Regions from separate parts of the Homo sapiens genome. Here regions 2, 3 and 4 are each linked to region 1. The links come from fine-mapping of genetic effects on gene expression. A gene starts in region 1. Each other region holds a variant in brackets. All regions are shown on one strand. Distances are from middle to middle.

The links. PIP is the estimated chance that this variant, and not a neighbour inherited with it, causes the effect.
Region 2: its variant is the best candidate, but not a certain one, in a credible set for the expression of TMED4 in whole blood (TOPMed, PIP 0.64).
Region 3: its variant is the best candidate, but not a certain one, in a credible set for the expression of TMED4 in tibial nerve (GTEx, PIP 0.55).
Region 4: its variant is the best candidate, but not a certain one, in a credible set for the expression of TMED4 in blood mononuclear cells (TOPMed, PIP 0.76).

The regions. Positions count from the first base shown.
Region 1 is chr7:44,581,187-44,583,869 of GRCh38, forward strand. It overlaps TMED4 (transmembrane p24 trafficking protein 4), which reads right to left and starts at 1,045. Exons shown (of 5, transcript NM_182547.4): 1 at 861-1,045; 2 at 537-637; 3 at 263-388; 4 at 1-53. The coding sequence starts at 1,020. RefSeq lists silencers at 669-768, 1,169-1,328 and an enhancer at 1,419-1,528.
Region 2 is chr7:44,644,256-44,646,938 of GRCh38, forward strand. It overlaps OGDH (oxoglutarate dehydrogenase), which reads left to right. Exons shown (of 23, transcript NM_002541.4): 3 at 1,072-1,263. Among named protein-coding and RNA genes, the nearest start is that of OGDH, 39 kb to the left of the region's middle. RefSeq lists an enhancer at 1,185-1,685. The variant A/G (reference allele first, on the strand shown) is at 1,194.
Region 3 is chr7:45,481,308-45,483,990 of GRCh38, forward strand. No RefSeq gene overlaps it. Among named protein-coding and RNA genes, the nearest start is that of ADCY1, 92 kb to the right of the region's middle. The variant C/T (reference allele first, on the strand shown) is at 1,617.
Region 4 is chr7:44,545,016-44,547,698 of GRCh38, forward strand. No RefSeq gene overlaps it. Among named protein-coding and RNA genes, the nearest start is that of NPC1L1, 5.0 kb to the left of the region's middle. The variant C/G (reference allele first, on the strand shown) is at 1,488.

The DNA of each region.
Region 1 (2,683 bases):
ATCTCAGGGTAGTTGTTGGCATGCTCCCCAACCTGGATGTCGAGATGCACCCGCTACAAGGAAACATGGAATGTATGAGTGGTGGGGCCTCCAGTTGTCTGTTCCAGGGTATGGAACCCACTATTGTCCCTGGCTGTGGAGCAGAAGGCAACATCTGTCTCCCCAATTCTGACTGTGCTACAAAGTTTCACAATCTTGATAAATCAAAATTTGGAAACAAGTGAGAGATTCTAAGCTGAAGCCAAAGAGAAAATCCTCTTACCAGTTTGCCACCAGCGAAGAGAGCCATCCTGGTAGAATTGGAGTGCAGACAGATTTGATGGTCACCGGGCGTGTGGGAGGTGAACGTGAAGCGGCCCTCCGAGCCGTACTGCCGGGACAGCACCACCTGCAACATATGTGAGTGAAGGCCCCACCTTTATACCGCAGGCTCTCCAAGTGCAAGTTCCTGTCCCTTGAGGCCTCCTCCAGGCAGTGCTTTACACCCCACGGGAGCTCCACTGAAGAACGGCTGCGTGGGCCAACGCCAGCCTTACCTTGCCGTCGGGGTCCTTCACTTCCACGTGCATGCCCAGGCCAGGGGTCGAGGGCAGGAAGACCTCCTTCTGCTTATCCCACATCTGGGTACGATAGTTGCCTGCGGGGCAGACACATAGTCACGACCGGCCCTAGTGGGCCGCCTCTCCGCCCGGCCCCCTCCGACGTGCGGCCCGGAGCTCTAGGCAGGGGGCCTGGCGTCCTCGGGGCACCCTCAGGCTAGGTACTGGGGGAGCCAGCGACCCGGCTGGGCTCGGGAGGAGGGAGCGCCGCCGAGGGCTGAGCTGGGTACAAAGGGCCTCCCCACCCTCAGCCCGCCTGACCGATGACCATGGTCTCGTCGGGGATTTCCTCGATGAAACAGCGCTTCTCGGTCTCGCCGATGTGGAAGTAGAGCCCCTGGGCGCCTGTGGCGCACAGCGCGAGAAGCAGCAGGGCCTGCCGCCCCATCGCCCGCAGAGGCCCAGCCCCGACACCTGCCATCGCGCCTCAGCCCCTAAGCGCCTGCGCACATTTGCGCATCGCTCTGCGCCTGCGCGCCACCCTAGCGACCCTGAGAGTTAGGGGAAGAGGACGCCTGCGCAGTGATATGTACTCGCCGTCTCCTGCAACTCCATCCGTACCGAACACTGCCGCGCCCCGCCCCCTCACACAGCCCGGCGCCCGCCTACCCCCGCAACGAGAGTAGAGGGCGCATGCGCAATGACGTTCGCCCTTAATTTCTCGCCCCTTACCCCGCAGCTTACCTCCGGCATCTCGCAGGGGAGGCACGCCTGCGCAGTCACGCCCGCCCTCGGCCCCAGTCAGCGATTTGGGTCTCGGAGCACCAAGGAGACGGTGGACGGAATCTGACCAGGCTTGGTGGCTACGATGGCCTGAAGCGTGCCTTTTGGGTTCTCAGCTCGGGCTCACAAGTGTTTTCTGTGCTAAATACAAAAAGCCCTGTGATGTTTTGCTTTGCGTGTCCACCTATCTGACTCGTAAGAACCGAGGCTGAATCCAGACCCACACTCTGTCACGTCGGGAGAGCCTGCCGCGGCGAGCCTCTGCGAGCGGGCATTTCTTGGGTGGGGACCAAAAGCCCAGTGCTGCCATAGTTTCGGATCATTCTTTTAAGAAGCTGGGGCCGGGCGCGGTGGCTGGCACCTGTAATCCCAGCACTCTGGGAGGCTGAGGCGGGCGGATCCCTTGAGCCCAGGAGTTCGGGACCAGCCTGGGCAACATGGTGAAACCCCCGTCTCTACAAAAAATTAACCGGTGTGGTGGTGTGCGCATGTAGTCCCAGCTACTTGGGAGGCTGAGGCAGGAGAATCGCTTGAACCCAGGAGGTCGAGGATGCATTAAGCAGTGATCGCGCTCCAGCCTGGGCGACCGAGGGTGATACCTTGTCTTAAAAAAAAGGTGGGAGAGTGGAACGAAAACTTGGAATAAGTAGGGTCATGGAGCTTGTTTACATCCCCTAGTTACAGCACATCCTTTTGAAAGTGAAAAACAAACTGGAATGTTACTTAGTGGGCATGGAATCGAAGCAACGGAAGGTTAAAACTGTTTTTATCAAGGCCAGGCGGGCGCGGTGGCTCACGCCTGTAATGCTAACACTTTGGGCGGCCAAGGCTGGTGGATCATCTGAGGTTAGAAATTCGAGACCAGTTGGGCCAACAAGGTGAAACCCCCGTCTCTACTAAAAATACATTTTATCAACAGAATTTCGAAACTTTTATATAATAGAATAATTACAATGAACTTTCATAAAGAACTTGAGCATACCTGGATTTTGGTATCCGTAGGGGTCCAGGAATTATCCCCCTTGGATAATAACGGAGGGCTGTACTCATCATCCAACTTCAACAACAGTTTGCTGCCTTTCTCATTTCATGTATCCCTTTCTGCATTTTTTTTTGAAGTGCTGTATATTAAAGCAAATCCTGGACATCATGTCATTTCACCTATAAATACGTCAGTGTGTGTCTCTAACAGATAAGGACTTTATACTATTATCACACCCACCAAAATTTTAAAAATTATTTAACATCACTTAATACCTAGTATGTGTTTAATTTTCCCCATTGCCTTAAAAAATTTTGTACATTAGATATTTAGGGTCCAAACAAGGTTTACTTACTGCATTTCATACAAATATATGTCT
Region 2 (2,683 bases), 63 kb after region 1:
GAACTTTTGTGAAGTCTTAGTATGTCTGATCTCTTAAATATTTTAAAAACTTGCATCTTTGTATGAGATGAATAAACCATTACAGTTCACAGTATCTGCAAATTGTAAATCAAATAATTCAGACATGGAATAGCCAAAAATAGTAGGAATATAAGTAAATTAGTTTATAGTTTTTCTAAGGAAATTCAAACTGATAACTAACACCTGACTTTGTGAAGTATTAGACTGTGTGCTAATGCCTTTAACTAGGGTAGTCTTTACAGCATACCTATGAAGAATGTATATATTTCTCTCCTCATAGATGAGAAAACAGCACAGAAAGGTAACTCACTAAGAGCCTACCTCTTGAATTTGAATTTTGATCCCTGACACAGAGATCAGATTTGAATTTCCATCTCTGACCCCACACTTTGAGCTCTTAGCTCCTGAGTTTCTCCTGAGGTAGCAATGATATTATTTCTCTGTGGGGTTAGTGCTGCCTCTTACAAAGGATCAGGTTCCACTTTGTTCCCAGGGAAGTGAAAGGACATGAGCAAGGTGACCCTGGGCTCTTCACAGGTTGTGCTGAGCCCTTGGGGCCTTGAGGGAGGTGTTTGATGGGGTGTTTGATCCCACAGAAAAACTGGTAGAGTTTGCAGACCTATAGACAGAAGGTCAAGAGATCACCTCCCAGGTGCTGGGGCCGGGGGGAAGGCTGAGACAGTAAGTGTCTCTGTTGACCTACATCCTGAATCTGTCCCCAGGCCCAGTGAATAGGAACTGAGGAGAGCTGTTGGCATTGGGCCTTTGGGTTATGTGTGTTGATGGAAGGCGGCCACAGGGCATCTGTGTTATAGCTGTGGGGGTCAGAAAGTGCATCCCGAAGACAAAAGTTGTGGAAAGCAGGGAGCCTGAATGCTGAGAGAAACCCACCGTTTGGGAACAGACAGAGACCCCACTGTCCAGGAGGAAGCAGGCTCAGCCAGCCTATGGTAGACTTGCCTTGCCTGCAGAGAGCAGTTCTCTGTGGCCACAGATGCATCCTGGACTTAGGGGAGCAGTGAGGTAACCCTGTACCTTCTTTGTCTTTAGTCATGGGACATTTTTTTTCGCAACACGAATGCCGGAGCCCCACCGGGCACTGCCTACCAGAGTCCCCTTCCCCTGAGCCGAGGCTCCCTGGCTGCTGTGGCCCATGCACAGTCCCTGGTAGA[A/G]GCACAGCCCAACGTGGACAAGCTCGTGGAGGACCACCTGGCAGTGCAGTCGCTCATCAGGGCATATCAGGTAAGGCGGGTGCTTTACCCGCACACGGGAAAGGGTGCAGTGTTCCTTAGGTCATGCCTCATGGGCCCTATTGGCCTTTCTGAGTGTATGTTGTCACTTTACTTATACCTCCTCAAATACTAGGTGCTTTCTCCCTGCTTTGGGAGGCTAAAAAACAAATACACAAGAAAAAGAACCAGGCTAGCCCTATTTGAGCAAATCTCCCAGCACCACTAATGCCTGCCTTATAAAAGGGATCCTTATTTCCTTTCCTTCCTTGGCAAGAAATATTTGTGGGCAGGGAAAACAAGTCAGTACCCGGGCATCAAGGAGAAGTGCTGCCCATCTGCCAGTGAGCAGTGACTGGGAGGGGTGGTGCTTTTGGGTGGTTGATGCCCCCTTCTCAGTTGCTAACAACTGAATACTATAAGAGAAGAAAACCATACTATAGAGTTTGGGGATGTGGAGGCAGGGAGAGGCAGCTGAGGGTACAGCTGAGCCTACAGAGAGTGATGAGGGGCAGGGGAACTCTCCAAAAGTATTGCAGTTAGTGGCCAGTCTCGTTAGGCAAGTGTTGAGCAGGACAAGGTTTTTCCCCCCATCCTTTCCCAGAGCACAATAACCAAAGTTTTTCTAGGATGTCCACCTGATACATGGGGAGAGCCTAGAGTTCAGATCTTAAGACTTCATCTGTGATAGTTCTAAGGACGACAGGTAGAGACAAGTGAGCCTGGTGCTTCCCTTCTGGAAGCTCCCATGGGCATCCAGGACCCTGCCACCTGTTCTTGTGTAACTGCTTTGGTGGCAACAAGGGGACTCATGTCCCTGGGCTGTCTTTTCTCTCATGCTTTGGTTTCTGGTGGCATGGGCCATGGGCAGGTGTTGTAATGGGGCAACATAGGGGAGGTCCTGGGTCTCTGGCCCTTCATGCCATGGCCTGGCAAGTAAGGCTCTCTCCCTGGGGCAAGTGTATTCTGCCTTAGAAAGGAGATGCATGGAGTTTTGTAAATGCTATATGCTTTAAAGTGTTATCCATGTGGATATTTGCATAAGGAGGAAGCCCAGTGGTGTTTCTTTATCACTGCCTGCACGCAGTTGGCCTCAGTAACAACTTCAGCCTGATCTTGCAGTGACTTACCAGCAGCTGCTCCCTTCTCAAATTGCTAGCAAGAAGTTGTGAAAGAATCTTAAATTGGAAGGGATTTTCTTTCTCCTTTTGGTTTTTAAATAGTTCAAATCAGATGCTTTAAGTCTGTGGTGTAGCAGGGTTTTTTTGTTCTGACTACTGTGTGCTGACCTACTCAGCAGCAGCAGGACCAGAGCCCTCACTCCTCACGGGGATATATAATAAAGGCAAACCTTCTCTTAGTGAGATGACCTCTTATCTGCACTCCTCCCCAGTTAAGGCCAACACTTAAGCCTTCATTTTCCTACTTAGAAA
Region 3 (2,683 bases), 900 kb after region 1:
TAAATCCTGCTCCATAATGTCTCCCCCAATGGATTTGGTGGGCCAATAAAGGCCAGGATTTCAGAAAGGGAAAAGAAGTTGCCTATGATGGCTCTCAGAGTGCCCTCCCATACCAGCCTGGAAGGACAGTCTTAGAAGAGACTCACACAAAATCTGTTTGCCATTTCTGCCCTAACACCTGATTTACAGAGCCTTCCCCACCCCCTGCTCCCTCTGCTTTAAGTCGTCTGGCTCTCCAATGTTCCTTCCAGTCTTCCAAGGCAGAGCAGCTCTTGATGATCTCTGTCCTGGGTTTGGGCATTGTGTTTCCATGGAGGTGTCCATGGCTGCTACAGCATCACTGGTGGACATGCCACACAGTCACCTTTTATAGCCTTGCAGTTCACAGAGTCTCTCACATCTTTTGTTAATGAGCTACTGTTGAGCCATGATCTTTTTCTTTACTCTTTTTTACTGTTCAGTATGAGATGTTTCAGAAATACAAGAAAGTAGCCGGGTGCAGTGGCTCACATCTGTAATCCCAGCTATGCAGGAGGCTGAGGCAGGAGAATTGCTTGAACCCCGGAGGCGGAGGTTGTAGTGAGCTGAGATTGTGCCACTGCACTCCAACTTGAGCAACAGAGTGAGATTCTGTCTCAAAAAAAAAAAAAAAAAAGAAGAAGAAGAAGAAAGCACCAGAAAGTGGAGTGAATATGAAAATGAACATCTATAGACTCATCACCTAGATTTCATTAACACATTGCCCTACTTATTACAGCTATTGTTTTTAACCAAAGTATTTTAGAGTAAATTACACATAATGTGGCATTTTACCCCACTTTTGTTTTCTCCTATAAAAATTAATTTTCCTATGTAATCCCAATCCTATTGTTCACACCTAAAAATATTAGCAAGCGTTTCTTAATATTATGTAATACCCATTCGAAAGTTAAATGTCTCCAGTTGTCTCCAAGATGTTTTTAAAATGTGATTTGGGCAAATCAAAGACAAAACTTTTGGTTGTATGTTTTCATAGCTCTTTAAAGCTAGTTAACCTTTCCTTCTGCATCTCTTTTTCATTGTGTTGACTTGTTGAAGAGACCAGGCCAGTTGTCTCACGAGTCCCACCTTCTCACTGTTGCCACTCATTCCTGCTTCCTGCTGCAGTGTGTAACTGGTTCCCTATCTCCTGCGTTGCCTATAAACTGGAAGCGAGGCCCTCAATGACCTGCTGTGATCTAGTCAAGCAATTTAGGCAAGGACACATAGGGGATGGATCATATCAGGAGCCATGCATTGCCTGGTGGCCTAAAATAGCTAAAATATGCTAAAATAGCTCTCTGGGTAACTTGACAAACCGCATCCTCCATTGCAACATTATGTTTCCCCTGGGTATTGGCCAGAAATCTATGGGATGTGCATCTGGAACCCTGAGAGTATCCAGCATCCCATCAACCTCCTTAGCATCCCTGGATGTGCCTTGCTTACATCAATTATTTTGCTAGGAATGTTAAAGAGGATTTTCTTACTCTATCAATTCAGTTTATTAGCTGACCTTACTCCATAGGGAAGAATTTTATCTCATCTGCTAAGCCTACTCAGTAACCACAAATATAAATTCTGCTGGAAAGGTGGCA[C/T]GAGGGCTTCATTCTCCTAATTGTGAATTTTCAGAGGAAAGAGCTGACTTAATACCTCATTCCAACAGACACCAATTAAGACAGATTGTTTTTGCTGTCTTCTTTGAGAATTAATATGGGGTCATGGATTTCTAGAAATTGAACACGTTTTAGTCAGTGACAGCCATTATTTTTTCTAATGCCCTAATTAACCCAATTTTGGTAGGGGGATCCCTGTTGAGCTGGCTCCTGCTCTGTTTCTCCTTACTTAGTATTTGTGATGTTGGAAACATTTTGGGAGCAAATCTCAAGACTTTGCATTTATTTCAGTTAAATAGGATCCCTTTCCCAAGACTGTTAAGGTATCATTTTAGATCCGGGGCTGATATCCACCCTCCCTTGCCAATCCCCATGTCACCCCCAAACCAATCCAGCTACTATCATCTGCAAACTTGCTGAGCTATTTCAAGACCATCCCAAGAGAACAAGAAAATACAATTCACGTTTATTCACTTTGTGCAAAACAGGTTCAAAGATATGATTTTCCCTCAGCATTGTGAGAACTATGAGGTGCCCCTCAGGGCTGATTTGCCCCCAGGCATCACAGTGTATAAGTCAAGGTGACAGGATCAAGGGCGGGGTCCTCATCAATGGAATTAGTCTTAATTTGTCACATGAGAGTCATTCTGCAGTATCCCCAGAGAGTGACGGCTTAGACATGTGGCCTATTTGCAGAAGGCTCACCTGGAGCTAGTAGGAGAGCCGTGGATCGCCCCTCGGTCCTGAGAACTGCCCTACAGGGGGAGGCGCGGGAGTCACTGTGCTTCTGTGAGATAGTGATGAGCAAAGAAGCAGGAATAGCAAGGAAAACGGAAGGGATCTTCACCTGGGTGTAGACTACCACTCTGCTGAGAATCTGCTGCCATCTTTAGAGTGCCCGCCTAGATGCTGATTGTAGGTCAGATACTGAGGGTGACGTCACATAATTTTTCCTGCAATTGTACAACAGCAGCACCGCTTTATCTCCATAGTATAAGTGAGGAAAGGAAGGCACAGACATGCCCAGTAACATGTCCAAGTATCATAGC
Region 4 (2,683 bases), 36 kb before region 1:
TGTCCACTGCTCAGGTGAGAGAGGCTCTCCCTGTTCTCCCAGACCCCTTTGCAGCTAGCAGGGGCCCTGTGATCCCCGTGGGAAGGCTTTTTCTTCCCTCATGAAAGGGGAGGTATGCAGCTGGCATGATATTCTAGCCTTCCCCACTTTTCGCCACACTAGACAGATGGAAGGTCTAGAGCTGTAGCAACCATCTTGTGGTCCTGAAGCATTGAACGCGAGGAAAAAGTCGAGATGCAAAAAATGCCATTGGAAATGACATCAGCAAAATGGTGGCCTAGGAAGCTCCAAGCTCTCATTTCCAAACTGAAACACTGAATAAACAAGCCAAACTGTCAGAACCAACTTTGTTGTCACTCTAGAAAACAAAGGCCTACAGCAACCAGGCAAACACTCAATTTAAAAAAGGCCATCTTCAAAACAGTAGCAAAGTTTTGTGGTGTTTTTACTTAGTCTTGCCCCACCCCTTCCCCAGCATGGCAGCAGTCTTGGTCTTTTTTTTTTTTTTTTCTTTTTGAAGCAGGGTCTCATTCTGTAGCCCAGGCTGGAATGTATTGGTACAATCATGGCTTACTGCAGCCTCAAACTCCTGGGCTCAAGCAATCCTCCAACCTCCGTCTCCTGAGAAGCTAGAATTACATGTATGTGCCACCACACCCAGCTAGTGTTTTAAATTGTTTGTAGAGATAGGGTCTCACTATGTTGTCTGGGCTGGTCTCAAACTCCTGGCCTCAAGTGATCCTCCTGCCTTGGCCTCCCAAAGTGTTGGGATTACAGGCGTGAGCCACTGCACTCAGTCAACAGTTTTGGAATTGAGACAACAGTAGTACAGTTCTCAGCTCCCTCCTCCAAAGAGAGCAGGCCTTATTTGCAAACTATTACGTGCATCTGTTCTTGTCTGGGGGATCCTGGAAGAACTGATGCAAGATGCTGTATCTCTTACCTAAAATCAGGACATTGCTCAGAAAAGATGCCTGGGGCAAGAGGTTATAGGTAGAGACATGCCATAGACCATTTTAAACCCAGAGGAGAAGCTTAGACAATTTGGATATTCAGCAGCAACTCGTGGGCGCAGTGGCTTACATCTGTAACCCCAACACTTGCGGATGCTGAAGCAGGCAGATTGCTTGAGCCCAGGAGTTTGAGACCAGTCTGGACAACATAGCAAGACCCTGTCTCTACAAAAAATTTAAAAATTAGCTGGGGGTGGTGGCATGCAACTGTAGTCCCAGCTACTTGGGAGGCTGAAGCGGGAGGATTGCTTTAGCCCAGAAGTTTGAGACTGCAGTGAGCCATGATTGTGCCACTGCACTACAGCCAGTGCAGTAGAGCAAGTCTCTGTCTTAAAATATATATATGTACATAAATTTTTAAAGCAGCTTTGAGCCAAGCACAGTGGCTCATGCCTGTAATCCCAATGCTTTTGGAGGCCAAGGTGGGAGGATCACTTGAGGCCAGGAGTTTGAGACCAGCCTGGGCAATAATTG[C/G]AAGACCCCCATCTCTACAAAAAATAAAATGTAAAAAAAGTTAGCTGGCATGGTGGCATGTACCTGTAGTCCCAGCTATTTGGGAGGCTGAGGTGGGAGGATCATCTGAGTTTAGGGGTTTGAGGCTGCAGTAAGCCATACCGCACCATTGCACTCCAGGCTGGACATTGACTCAAAAGAAAAAAAAAAAGAAGAAGAAGAAGCCGCCAGGTGCAGTGGCTCATGCCTGTAATCACAGCAGTTTGGAAGACCAAGGCAAGAGGACTGCTTGAGGCCAGGAGTTTGAGACAAGCCTGGCCAAGGTAGTGAGAGCCTGTCTCTACAACAAAATAGAAAAGCAGGCTGGGCATGGTGGCTCACACCTGTAATCTCAGCAATTTGGGAGGTTGAGGTGGGAAGATCCTGCCCTGATCCCAGGAGTTTGAAACCAGCCTGGGAAACATGATGAGACCCTGTCTCTACAAAAAAATAAATAATTGGAAGGGGCCAAGATGGCCGAATAGGAACAGTTCCCATCTGCAGCTTCCAGTGAGACCAGTGCAGAAGGTGGGTGATTTCTGCATTTCCAACTGAGGTACCCAGTTCATCTCATTGGGACTGGTTCGGCAGTGGGTCCAACCCACAGAGGATGAGCAGAAAAAAATAAATAATTAGACGGAGGTTAGGCACCTGCTGTCCCAGCTACTTGGAAGAGACACAGGAAGATCACTTGAGCCCTCAAGGTTAAGGCTGCTGTGAGCTATGTTCACACAAGGACAGGATGGGGAGGGGAGGGGAGGAGAGGGGGAGGGAGGGGGAAGGGAAGGAGGGAGGGAGAGAAGGAAAGAGAGAGAGAAAAAGAAAGAGAAAAAGAAAAAGAAAGAAAGAAGAGGAAAGAAAAAAGCAAAAGAAAAAAGGAAAGGAAGGAAGGAAGGGAGGGTGGCAGGGAGGAGACAGAGAGAGAGAAAGAGAAAGAAAGAAAGAAAGAAAGAAAGAAAGAAAGAAAGAAAGAAAGAAAGAAAGAAAGAAAGAAAGAAAGAAAAGAAGAAAGAAGAGGAAAGAAAAAAGCAAAAGAAAAAAGGAAAGGAAGGAAGGAAAGAAGGAAGGAAGGGAGGGAGGAGAGAGAGAGAAAGAAAGAAAGAAAGAAAGAAAGAAAAAGAAAGGAAAGAAAGAAAGAAGAAAGAAAAGGAAAGAAAGAGAGAGAAAAGAAAAGAGAA